Linked DNA regions of Homo sapiens. The protein of the gene in region 2 interacts with the protein of the main gene of each other region in a biochemical or structural test. Each region holds a gene or a part of one and is shown on either strand. Other genes may lie near its edges.

What was found. Proteins that work in one complex are often made in the same cells at the same time.
Region 1: of the proteins of CSNK1A1 (region 2) and RIPK1, one has a biochemical effect on the other in vitro, tested with the Homo sapiens proteins (one study listed by IntAct).
Region 3: of the proteins of CSNK1A1 (region 2) and CUL4B, one has a biochemical effect on the other in vitro, tested with the Homo sapiens proteins (one study listed by BioGRID).
Region 4: of the proteins of CSNK1A1 (region 2) and PRKD2, one has a biochemical effect on the other in vitro, tested with the Homo sapiens proteins (one study listed by IntAct).

Annotation. Positions count from the first base shown.
Region 1 is NC_000006.12:3,099,494-3,102,993, reverse strand, and holds part of RIPK1 (receptor-interacting serine/threonine-protein kinase 1), read right to left. Parts: intron 1-3,500. UniProt on the Homo sapiens protein: Serine-threonine kinase which is a key regulator of TNF-mediated apoptosis, necroptosis and inflammatory pathways.
Region 2 is NC_000005.10:149,495,961-149,499,439, forward strand, and holds part of CSNK1A1 (casein kinase I isoform alpha), read right to left. Parts: intron 901-3,479; coding exon 893-900; 3' UTR 1-892.
Region 3 is NC_000023.11:120,533,463-120,536,962, forward strand, and holds part of CUL4B (cullin-4B), read right to left. Parts: coding exon 3,465-3,500; intron 2,482-3,464; coding exon 2,368-2,481; intron 1,125-2,367; coding exon 1,019-1,124; intron 1-1,018.
Region 4 is NC_000019.10:46,676,466-46,679,114, reverse strand, and holds part of PRKD2 (serine/threonine-protein kinase D2), read left to right. Parts: intron 1-451; coding exon 452-719; intron 720-1,658; exon of another isoform or gene 1,659-1,975; intron 1,976-2,649.

The sequences.
Region 1 (3,500 bases), on a different chromosome or scaffold from region 2:
GGTGGAGAAATTAGAATCCTTGTGCATTGCTGGTGGGGAATATAAAATGGTGTAGCTACCATGTAAAACAATTTTAACAGTACTTAAAAGTTAAACATGGCCGGGCATGGGAGCTCACGCCTGTAATCCCAGCACTTTGGGACCTCAGATCACCTGAGGTTAGGAGTTTGAGACCAGCCTGGACAACATGGTGAAACCACCCCATCTCTACTAAAAATACAAAAAACTAGCCGGGCGTGGTGGTGTATGCCTGTAATCCCAGCTACTCGGGAAGGTGAGGCAGGAGAATCGCTTGAACCCGGGAGGCGGAGGTTGCAGTGAGCCGAGATGGTGCCACTGCATTCCAGCCTGGGCAACAGAGGGAGACTCTGTCTCAGAAAAACAAAAAGTTATACATAGAATTACCATATGATCTAGCAATTCCACACCCGGATATATATACCCCAAAGAACTGAAGGCAGGAACTCAAAATATGGTGCAGGTGTAGTATCCCTTATCCAAAATGCTTGGGATTAGAAGTGTTTTGGATTTTGGATTGTTTCCAATTTGGGAATATTTGCATGTACAGAATGACAGATCGTGGGGAGAGGACCTAAGTCTAAACATGAAGTTTATTTGTGTTTCATATGCACCTTATACACATAGCCTGAAGGTCACTTTATACCATATTTTAATAATTTTGTGCATGAAACAAAGTTTGAGGATACTGAACTATCAGAAAGCAGAGGTGTCAGGTGTGGTATTTTCCACTTGTGGCATCATGCTGGCACTCAAAACGTTTCAGATTTTGGAGGATTTTGAATTTTGGATTTTGGGTTTAGGGATGTTCAACCTGTATATCCATATGATGGAATGTTATTCAGCCATAAAAGGGAATGAAATTCTGATACATGCTATGAAACAGATGAACCTTGAAAACATTATGCTAAGTGAAATATGCCAGACTCCAAAGGAAATACATTGTGTGATCCTTTTGCTAGGAGCTACCTAGAATTCAGAGACAGAAAACAGAATAGAAGCTACCAGGGGCTGGGAGAGGGAGGAATGGGGAGTTACCGTTTAGCAGGTACAGAGTTTCAGTTTGGGATGATAAAAAAGTTCTAGATATAGATAGTGGTAATGGCCGCACAACATTATGAATGTACTTAATGCCACTGGATTGTTCACTTAAAAATGGTTAAAATAGAGAATTTTATGTTAAGTATATTTTGCCACAGTAAAAAACTTTTTCCTTATAGGAGCAATAATCCTCATTATAGAAAACATAGAAAATTATATATTCTTAAAACCTATCCATAGTTTTGCCCTACACCCAAAGATAAAATGTTAACACTTTGGTATTTTTCCTTCAAGTTTTTTTTTTCCTAGTTTTATTTGTATTTTGCTGTTAACGATTGTCTGCTATATAAATAAGTGGTCAAAAATACTAGCTAAATGAATACATGCATGATCTAGGGGAGAATGACAGAGGGTATTAATTATGTTCACACTTTGTAGCATTCTATATATTGTTTTTGTCTCTTTGCATGTTTATTTTTAGAGATCAAATCTGCCTCTGTCGCCCAGGCAGGAGTGCAGTGGCATGGTCATAGCTCACTGAAACCTCCAACTCCTGGGCTCAAGCAATCCTCCCAGCTTGTCCTCCCAAAGAGCTGGGATTACAGGCATGAGCCACCTCACCCAGCTGTATGTTTATTGTTTTTAATTAACATGAAAAGGGTTTTTTGTTGTTTTTTTTCTTGAGACAGAGTCTCACTGTGTCCTCCAGGCTAGAGTGCAGGCTCAACCTCCAGGCTCAAGAGAGCCTGCCACCTCAGCCTCCTGTGTAGCTGGGACAACAGGCATGCGCCACCACGCTTGGCTAATTTTTGTGTTTTTTGTAGAGATCGGTTTTTGCCATGTTGCTGGTTTTGAACTGGCCTCAAGAAATCCACCCACCTCAGCCTCCCAAAGTGCTGAGATTACAGGCACGAGCCACCCTGCTTAGCCTAATATGAAAAGTATTTTTGTTATTTTAATTTTATCAAATTGATTTTCTTTTTATAGTTATTTTTATTACACAAATATGTTAAGTACAAAGTCCTTTTGAAAGATTCAAACAGGCCAGACATGGTGGCTCACGCCTGTAATCCCAGCACTCTAGGAGGCCGAGGCGAGCAGATCGCTTGAGGTCAGGAGTTCAAGACCAGCCTGGCCAACATGGTGAAACCCCATCTCTACTAAAAGTACAAAAAAATTAGCTGGGTGTGGTGGTACACGCCTGTAATCCCAGCTACTCGGGAGGCTGAGGCACGAGAATCACTTGAACCCGGGAGGTGGAGGTTGTAGTGAGCCCAGATTGTGTCACTGCACTCCAGCCTGGGTGACAGAGTAAGACCGTCTCAAAAAGAAAACCAAAAAAACCCCCAAAGATTCAAACAATGCAGAATCACATAGAATAACATCCAAACATTCCTTCAGCACCTACTCTTCCATTCTCTAGAGGTAAGCCTTATCCAGAGTGTGATGCATATCACTCTTATTCTCTCTCTAGGAATTTGCACACACATTCCAGAAATATATATATATTTGAGACACAGTTTCACTCTGTTGCCCAGGATGGAGTGTAGTGGCACAATCTTGGCTCACTGCAACCTCCACCTCCCGGGTTCAAGCAATTCTCATGCCTCAGCCTCCTGAGTAGCTGGGATTATGGACATGCACCACCATACCTGGCCAGTTTTTTTTGTATTATTAGTAGAGACGGGGTTTTACCATGTTGGCCAGCTGGTCTCCAACTCCTCACCTCAAGTGATCTGTACAACTCCGCCTCCCATAGTGCTGGAATTACAGGCATGAGCCACTGCACCAGGCCAAAATATATATATCTTTAACATTAAAAGGACCACACTGTAAGTATTGTTTTGTGACTTATTTTTTTCACTAACAGCTAATCTTGAAGATCTTTCTATATCATTACATGTTAGTTTCCACCTCTTTCTTTTAAATGGCTATTAGTATTCTGTAGTTTAGATGAATCATAATTTAGGGCAGTTACTTATGGACATTTGAGTTGTTTCTAATTTTTCACTCTTATAAACTAAGGTGCAAAGAATGGAAACTACATCTTTGAGTGCACGTGAGCAGTATAGATTACTGAGAGTAGAACTGCAGCCAAACTTATGGGCTTGTGGAGTTTGTTGGGTGCCTCACCTTCTAATAAACTTCGCCACTCTTACCAACACTGCAGAAGACTGCTTGTTATTCTGCATTTTCACCAACACACTGTATCACTAATCTTTCAAAAATTTCAATCTAATGGATGAAAAATTGTAACGGGTTCATTTTGCCTTTCTCTGTTGGCGAGGCCAAATATCTTTTCTGAAGTATGTTGTTCAGTTTCTTTTTTGAATTGTCTATGTTCTTTGTCTATTATTTTTCTTTTATTTTGGTTTTTTTGTTTGTTTTTTTGAGACGGAGTCTCACTTTGTCACCCAGGCTGGAGTGCAGTGGCTCCATCT
Region 2 (3,479 bases):
TGTTTAAAAAAAATCTCATTTCCTTACAGAAACAGTTTTTAGTTTTTAATGAACTTGTAAACAAAAAAGCTCCCATTTCAAAATAAAAACAAAATCCCAGATCATATAGATGTTTACAGTGATTACATTTATCTAAGCAACATACATACATGTTCAGTTGTAAGATGTTAACTAAATTTCTGTGACAAATATGCTTTTTTTTTAATACCAAGAACATTATAGAGTTAATGCAGAGTCCTAAGGATAATCTAGTAGTCACTAAGTTTTTCTTAAGTCTTCACTTTAGATGCTGTTATTTCTAGCACAATTAAGCAGGCAGAGTCTTTCATATGCTCAAACACTGGAATCTTTGGTTGCTACCATATCAGCTGGCTTGCAGACAAGAAGCCAACCATTTTAAGAATGTTTTAAGTGAACAACTTGCAAACCCCAGGGATGGAAAAACCCTAAGAATGCACAATTGTGAGCATTTAACAACCATCACAACTGTGGCTGAAGACTGTTCATGCCGTTCTTCTGAAATGAGATCTCAAAGCAGTATAGTTCAAAACAAAAGGTTTTAACAAAAAATTGGCATATGCACAATTTCTCCACCAATTTTTGTGTGTCAACCATTTAGTTAACTTTTCCACTTGAAAAAATGCAATAGAAAACCGGACACCATGTTTCACTATCTCAGTTAATATTCACAATTACAGAGGCTACAACTCAGGATACAGCATCACCAATGCTGCCCAGAGTCAGTTTATACTGAAATTAAGTTCTTTACACCAAGTAAATGGTTGTCCACAACCACTGGCTAGTGTACATATGAACTAAAATTTCTAGATTTGGGGAGAAACAAATGCTGCTCCGATCATCTGCTCTGCTTCTTCTGTTCCTCAATTCATGCTTAGAAACCTGGTAAAAAATCAAAACAAAAAAAAAGTTAAAATTCCAAGTCAAAAATTTTAAATTACACCCAAAATATGGAAATTGGGTGGAACTGAGCCAATAATTATAGTGGCTCATGTTATTTCGTCTCTTGTGAAAAGTATTAGCTCAACTTTTTAAAACAGAAAAACATGAATCTATACTTAAAACTAATTTTTTCTGTTTTGAATGACTCTAGGAAGGAGTGGTACAGTGAATTCAAAGCCTCTCAGCATACTAAAATAATTATTAGTAATTCAAATGAGCATGTTTCTGCATTTTTACATATGCAGAACATATTAGGCATTCACATATTTATCAAATCAATGAAAAACAGATTGCTTTGCTTTAACTAAAGAATACAATTTTAATCCTACCATAGGCACAAATTATTTCTGACACAAATTAAAACGGTTAGCTTTAATAATAAATGCATTCAAAGCATAATTATCTGTATTATTTTACTAAACAAAGACCTGAGAAGCATGTAATTTCTGTAGAGAAACCTTAGACCTTTAAAACTTCTTTACCGGCCGCATTAGAAAGATTGTTTTGTGACTCATTTAAAAATGTAAGCAAGTGATGCTTTTTTGGCTTTATTTACTTCTCAAGCCTACACATTCTACAAATACTTCCCTCCTCCACCACAAGTAGACCCTAGGGCCTCTACATAGGCCCTAGGCCAAGTTTGAATACAAGAAGCCTCAGGTCATAACCACACTTTATCTACAGCTAAAGGCAAAGGGAGAAAATATGCCTGTCCCACAGCAATAGCCTGAAAATCTCTTAAGCACCGTTTTTCCTCTCACCAGACACCCACTCTGAGGCACCAATGCTCCTTTGTCTACCTCCTTACAAATGAGCTAGAAACTATAGCTCATTCTAGCCCACTCCAATCAATCCTCACTTCTTCAGCCCAGGTCATGTTTTCTTCAATCATAAACTGCTCCTTTTCTTTTAGTTCTTTTTTCTTTTTTTTTGGAGACAGTCTCGCTCTGTCACCCAGGCTGGAGGGCAGTGGCATGATCTTGGCTCACCGCAACCTCTGCCTCCTGGGTTCAAGCGATTCTCCTGCCTCAGCCTCCTGAGTAGCTGGGACTATAGGTGCCTGCCACCATGCCTGGCTAATTTTTGTATTTATAGTAGAGACACAGTTTCACTGTGTTGGCCAGGCTGGTCTCAAACTCCTGACCTCGTGATCCACCCGCCATGGCCTCCCAAAGTGTGGGGGTTACAGGTGGGAGCCACCGTGCCCAGCTTCTTTTACTTTTTAAACATTTGTTGGGCCATCTCCCATGGGCTTTGTGGGAGAAACAAAATAATTCTAATATTTATTTCTTATGCATATATGCCCCTTTTTTTTTTTGGGAAATAATAGCGAACATACAAGAGAGTAGGTGCATAATAGATCTTTGTTGCCTGGGTACTAAGTCCATAAGCACCAAATGCCAAAAATGAAAGATAACATAACTTTGAGAATATACTTCACCATAGGGAATATCATTTGATGCATGTTATTAAGAAGTATTAGCGAGGTAAACCTTTCTTTTAAAGGTTGTCAAACCAAACCTTAATAAAAATCTGACTATACCCTGTGACCAAATTTCAATTTTAAAATACAGGAAAAGTTTCAAGCTTCTTGTTTGGGAGTTTAAAAAAGAAAAAAAGTACAATACAGGATAAGCTATGCAGGTTAAGAAACTAAGGATTAAACAGAAATTAAACAGATTAAACAGGATTAAACAGAATTCCCCCATCAGGATTTGGTTTCAAGTCTTGCAATTCTTCTTAAACATGATTTAAAAAACGTATTTTCACAACTACTAAAATTGCTGGGTTTTATCATAGTTTTCTTATGTAATCATATTAAACTAATTGTTATGGTGAATATACCAAATGGCTTTCAAAGGGAAAACCACCATCACTAACAAACTAAAATGGAAACATGCTACATTGTCAGTCAAAATACAAGGAAACTCTTGTGCCTTTAATAGCAAGAAAACTTCAGAATGTATCTGTACATCTTTTGACCTGTTATCTGAGGAATTGCTGAGTCAATAAATGATTACAATTGTTTAGAAACTGGTAAAAGGCTACCCTAACAATATTCCTGGTAGAATAGAGCAGTCAAATCCAGCTTTAACTCTTCAAATGGGTCAATGGTATGACATTCCAGCCAGGGATCAACATTTCTCCAGTGAATTGTCCTAAGATGTTACTGAAGTATGTTTAGGAAAAAACCTCAATAGGAATATTCAACAGGTATTCAACAGTCTTGCAGTACTAAGCATTCTTTTCCCCAATACGCATTGGTCTTTGGTTTTTATCTTGCAGATTAGGTGGCTCATCCAGGCTTCCAAGAGTTCAAGAACCCATCTTCACTGTAACATCAGTTAAAATGAGGAATGAATCCCTTTATTCCTTAAAAAAAAAGGGGAGGGGGAGGGGGGAGTTAAAACAGAGTTGGAGGATGTGATGATTAAGAAGTTAATAGCTTAATTAAATTTCAAATCTGCAAAAAGCAAAAAAAAGTTTATTTTTATATAACTAACAAGGATATTCTATCC
Region 3 (3,500 bases), on a different chromosome or scaffold from region 2:
ATTAAGCTCTTCATGATTCTTCATGATTCTATGCTACAATTAAGCTCTTCATGGGCCTATACTGTGCCCATTCCTACCTCCCAACCTCATCTCAAAATATTTCCCCTTGCTGTATATGCCTTCTCCCTGACCAAAACTTGAAGGCCCAGCTCAAATGCCACTTGCTTCATGACAGCTTTCCCAATTGTGCCAGTCCACGGTGATCTCTTGCTTTGTTGCACTCTTACCACACTTATAGTCAGTACCACAAGCCAGTACTTATGGGTTTTGACATTATTTCAAGTGTCATTTCCCCCTTTCCCTATGGTTATATAAAGAGTTCTGGCCAGGCGCGGTGGCTCACACCTGTAATCCCAGCACTTTGGTAGGCCGAGGCAGGCGGATCACGAGGTCAGGAGTTCGAGACCAGCCTGGCCAACATGGTGAAACCCCGTCTCTACTAAAAATACAAACATTAGCCAGGTGTGGTGGCAGGCGCCTGTAATCCCAGCTACTCGGGAGGCAGAGGCAGGAGAATTGCTTGAACACAGGAGGCAGAGGTTGCAGTGAGCCGAGATCGCGCCACTGCACTCCAGCCTGGGTGACAGAGCAAGATTCCGTCTTGAGGGGAAAAAAAAAGAGTTCTGGCTGGCTGCAGGGGCTCATGCCTGTAATTGCAGTACTTAGGGAGGCTGAGGCAGGAAGACCCCTTGAGCCCAGGAGTTTGAGACCAGGCTAAGCAACATAGTGAGACCCTGTCTCTACAAAAAAAAATTTTAAAAATTAGCCAGGCACGGTGGCATGCACTTGTAGTCCCATCTGCTTGGCAGGCTGAGGCAGGAGAATCACTTGAGCCTGAGCCATGATTGTACCACTGGACCCCAGCCTGGGTGACAGAGTGAGACCCTGTCTCATTAAAAAAAAAGAAAAAAAAAACTCAAAACAGTTCTGAGGCAAGGAATTATTCCTATAAATATGTCCCCCAGACCTCTTAACATAGTGGTGTGCACATAGTGAACAATTAATGTTTGCTACAAACCTATTCCAGTTGCCTGCTTGATCTCTTCTAAACTGAACTCCTCTCCCTCATTAAACATTAGCAGCACCAGTGTTTGAAAAAGAGAGACCTGGAGTTCCTTTTTACCCTGTTGAAGAAATAAAAGTGTTTAGTCATCACTTTTTTAAAAACACATGAAAAATTAATCATCTCTTATAGGAAAAGCATTTTTCAATTAGTGGATTTAGAAACATGATTAGCATTATCCAGCAAAGCCACTTGACGTGGTAATACAGTATTTCAGTGTGAGGTTTAGGTGTGACCCTACCTAAAATAGGGGGAAGGATTAGCTGACCTTTTAACAGTTTTTTTTTAAGCCTTATAAATAGAATACAGTAATGAAAATTAATCAGCCTTATGTGTCATTCTAGATATTCATCACAAGCAGCAAGAAATCACTATTTCAAATGTATTTTTGATTTGTTTGGCTCAGATTAGTCATGAAAAGCTAAAGTTTTTTGAGATTAGATATTGCACACTGTTTCCCTTAACTCCCACTCTATTCGTAGCTCCCAGCAACAAGATTTCTGTCAAGAAGTGGCAGTGTTAGACTAAGTGTAGTTGCTCATGCCTGTAATCCCAGCACTTTAGGAAGCGGAGGCAGGGGGATAGCTTGAGCCCATGAGTTTGAGGTTACAGTGAACTATGATTGTGCCACTGTACTCCTGCCTGGGTGACAGAGTGGGACCCTATCTCTAAAAATAAACAAATAAATAAAAATAGGAAGTGGCAGTGTACAGTTTTCATCCACAGGTGAGGAAAGGGTAGGGGGAAAGTTCACTGCTTTTCATTTTGCAGAAGGGCCAAATCAATCGTGGAAAGACCACACACCTAAAATTACTTAAAAATACATAAAGCTATGACAAACTATCACTGTCATCATGCGGATATCTAGGATACAATTATAAAACAACAGCTTAAACTGGCCAGATGCGGTGGTTCACACCTGTAATCCCAGCACTTTAGGAGGCCGAGGCGCGTGGATCACAAGGTCAAGAGACAGAGACCATCCTGGCCAACATGGTGAAACCCCGTCTCCACTAAAAATACAAAAAAAATTAGCTGGGTATGGTGGCGCACGCCTGTAGTCCCAGCCACTCGGGAGGCTGAGGCAGGAGAATCACCTGAACCCAGGAGGCAGAGGTTGCGGTGAGCCAAGATAGCGCCACTGCACTCCACTCTGGTGACAGAGTGAGACTCTGTCTCAAAAAAAAAAAAAAAAAAAAAAAAGAAGAAAACAAAAAACAATAGCCTAAACTTTCAGTTAAGAAGGATGACCTAAACATTAAAGATAAAGATGAAAACTAAAAGTTTTGGGAACATCCACTTACCTCTTTAAATTCTGCTTTTAACACACAGTGTCCTAGGGTTGACTGCCACTGAAGTTTCCTGCCACTATGTTTGCCTAGGTAAAATGTCTTGAAAATCTCCTGAAGTTTTACCATCTAAAGTAAATAAAATAAGGCTTTATTTAAGCTCTGTATCCAATACCACATTTACCATTTTTATACTTACCTCATGTGATATAGTTTCTGGAAAATTTTAAGACTATATCCAGTAGGTCCACCAATCACTTTGATGAAAAACAATGATCTCCCAACCACCAAATCAAATGGGATTTATTAGGATTTATACCTTTTGCTCTCTCTGAACATTTAATCATCCCCTCTTTTGAAACATTCACCTGCAGCAGCTTTTGTGCCTCTGCACTATGCTGCTTCCTTTATTTCACTGTTGCTTCTGCATTGGTTTCCTTCACAGGTTCCTCTTTCTACCATCTGCCAAATGTGAGCCTTTTCTAAAGTTCTGCCTCTGCTGTTTTTTCTTCCTCTTTGAGAGAAATCTACTCCCTGGGCCTTCATAATCATCTCCATGGAGGATTCTCAATATCTATCTGTCTAGCCTTAATCCCTTTTATGGGCTTCAGTCCTGGACTAGACAGTTTACCAGGAGTCAGGATAGATTTAATCAAGGACCCATCATTTAGCAATCCCACCTATGGGTGAAATATGTGCAAGAATTCTTAATAGCTAGGTAGAGTGAGGGGTATAACCTGGGAAGATGGAAGAAGAGCCAGGGAAATTGACCCTGAACCCAGAAATTTGGCATTATTAGCTATGTGCTTAACTGGACTTCTAAGTACAAAAGTAAAACATTAAAGCAGTTGGTATTTGGTGTTGGTGCGCTTACTGACATACACTTTTAAAAGTATCCATGCCAAGCCTGGTGACTTACACCTGTAATCCCAGCACTTCGGAAGGCTGAGGCGGGGGGGATCACTTGAGCCCAAGAGTTCAAGACCAGCCTGAGCAATACAGCGAGACCCTGGGTCTCTATTTTTTTCTAAGTATCTATTTTTAAATGACAAGCAAAATGGAAATGCTATGATTTCTATGCCTATAACTCAGTTCTAAACAGTAACTCTTACCTCTGGTGGTAAATGAACTTCCATAGGCACATATGT
Region 4 (2,649 bases), on a different chromosome or scaffold from region 2:
TTCCTTGGCCTCCCAAAGTGCTGAGATTGCAGGCATGAGCCACCACGCCCCAATCATGTATATTTTGAGGCTATTAAAAAAAATCTGCATTATTCAAAAGAGGAAACAGCGACCCATTGGAGGTGGCAGAGGTATAGCAGCAGCTAGCATTTATTGTGCACCAACTGAATGCCAAATATTGTCCTGTGGGCTTTGGATGGTTTAATTCACTAACCATCATGGCAGTCCTCTGAGATAGGTGCTCTTCTGCTCTTCTTCCTATAGATGGGGAAACTGAGGCACAGAGGGGGGAAGTCACCTGCCCAGGGTTGCTCAGCTAGTGAGCCAAGGAGCCTGGATTCAAACCAGCATCCAGCTTTCTCTGGAATACCATGGAGGGTGGTGTGGTGGGGATGCTGGGGTGGGTGCGGCTCCATCACCTGGTGGAGCCTCCATCCCTTGCCCTCTGCAGGTGAAGCTGTGTGACTTTGGCTTTGCTCGCATCATCGGCGAGAAGTCGTTCCGCCGCTCAGTGGTGGGCACGCCGGCCTACCTGGCACCCGAGGTGCTGCTCAACCAGGGCTACAACCGCTCGCTGGACATGTGGTCAGTGGGCGTGATCATGTACGTCAGCCTCAGCGGCACCTTCCCTTTCAACGAGGATGAGGACATCAATGACCAGATCCAGAACGCCGCCTTCATGTACCCGGCCAGCCCCTGGAGCCACATCTCAGCTGGAGGTGCCTGGGGCCCGCCTACCCCATGGGCGGGTGGGTTGTGGGGTGGGGCTGGAGAAGTGGGCGGAGCCATGAGAGGGGGGTGGACCCGGAAACAGCCTGGCACCTTGGGGGTGGAGCCCAGTGCTGGGGCGGGCCTACTGGAGGGATGTGGCTACAGGAGGAGCCGTCCTGTAAAAGATGGGCTGGGACTCAGGCCTAGACTAGGTTACTTGGGCTGGAAACCAAGTGCCCCAGAAGCGCTGAGGACACTTGGAACCTTAGGGGGGCTGAGTGAGACTTGGCTTGTCTAGGGTGGGACCAGGAAAGGGACTGGACTTGAGGGTACCAAAGGGCTGCGGTGACCAGGAGAAGGGGCTGAGCCTCCCAAGGCATTGGCTGGGACCTGGAGCCTTTGGGTTTACGACCCCAAAAGGGTCAGCCTTGCAAAAAGGAGGCACCGGTGGGTAGGGTTGAGAAACAAGGGCATGGCTACTTTGCTGTGTACTGGGGCCGTGACTTGGGTGAAGATGGGCCTGAAGCCTGGGGTCGGTTCAGTGACCAAGGGAGCCAGTCTAGGGACGTGGCCGTGGAGGGTTTCCGAAGAGGTCCAGGAACAGGGCTGACCCTGAGTCCTGGAAGCTGGGAGTGGATGGGAGTGGGGAGGAGAAGGGAGCCAGGACTGAGGCAGACATTGCACTCTGCATTCTGGGGCTTTGGTGTTGTGGCTGGGCCTGATGAAGTGGCACCGGGCCTGGTGACTTGAACCTACTTGGGAATGGGTCTGTAACTTTCCCTGCTTGGAAAAGTTAAGTCCTAAGGCCTGGAGCTTTGAGGCTGGGTGTGGGATGGCATGTTTAGAGGGCCAGAGGCAGGGCTAAGATACTGGGGTGTGTCAGAAGCCAGGAGAACAAGGGACCTGTGTTGGAGCCAGGGAGCTCAGGAAGACAGATGGAGTATGGGAAGGGGGGGGATCATTCATTCATTTATTTATAACCATTTATTCAACAAGTACATTCATGTATTTGTAACCATTGATTCAACATGTTGAGTGCCCACGATGTGCCAGGCATTGACTGTTCCAGCTCTGGGAATACTGTGATGACTTGGACAGAAGGGGTCAGGTGCAGGGTAGCTCATTGAGTGGTCCGCGAAGGGTGGAAAGGGGAAGGGTCCTCTCTGGAGGGTGCGGCTTCATGGAGCAGGTGGAGCAGGGTGACACGGAGGTTGCTCGGTGCAGGACAAGACAAGGTCTTGGTGGTGGTCTAAGAGCATGGGCCCTAAGCAGTGAGAATGTGGATTGACTTGAGTCCTGGAGTAATATTGGGGGTGCTCAACACTGGCTTTTTTTTTTTTTTTGAGGTGGGGTCTCGCTCTTTCACCCACGCTGGAGTGCAGTGGCGTGATCTCGGCTCACTGCAACCTCCACCTCTTGGGTTCAAGGGATTCTCCTGCCTCAGCCTCCCGAGTAACTGGGATTACAGGCACACAGCACCATGCCTGGCTCATGTTTTATATTTTTAGTAGAGACAGGGTTTCGCCATGTTAGCCAGGCTGGTCTTGAACTCCTGACCTCAAGTTATTTGCCCGCTTCAGCCTCCCAAAGTGCTGGGATTGCAGGCATAAGCCATCACACCCCGCCAGCATTGTCTTTTGAGACCCACTCAGAAGTCCCTCAGTAAAAGTGCATCGAGTGTGCACAAGTGAATTTAAGTGTGGTTGCACCTGTGTGAGGATCACAGAATCCTGTGGGTGTTGACGGGAGCAGGGTGCCTGTGTGCACCAGGCCTCTCCTCGGATGGGTTCATACAGTGAAGCCTTGTCCTTCATGGCTTCCCATCAAGGAGAGAGCCTCGGATGAGTGCTGGCTTGTCTTGAAGCTTGACATTCGCTAGTCCTCTTTTTCACAATGAACAGGCCTATCTCTGAGCCTTCTGCAGGCAATGGTGACTAA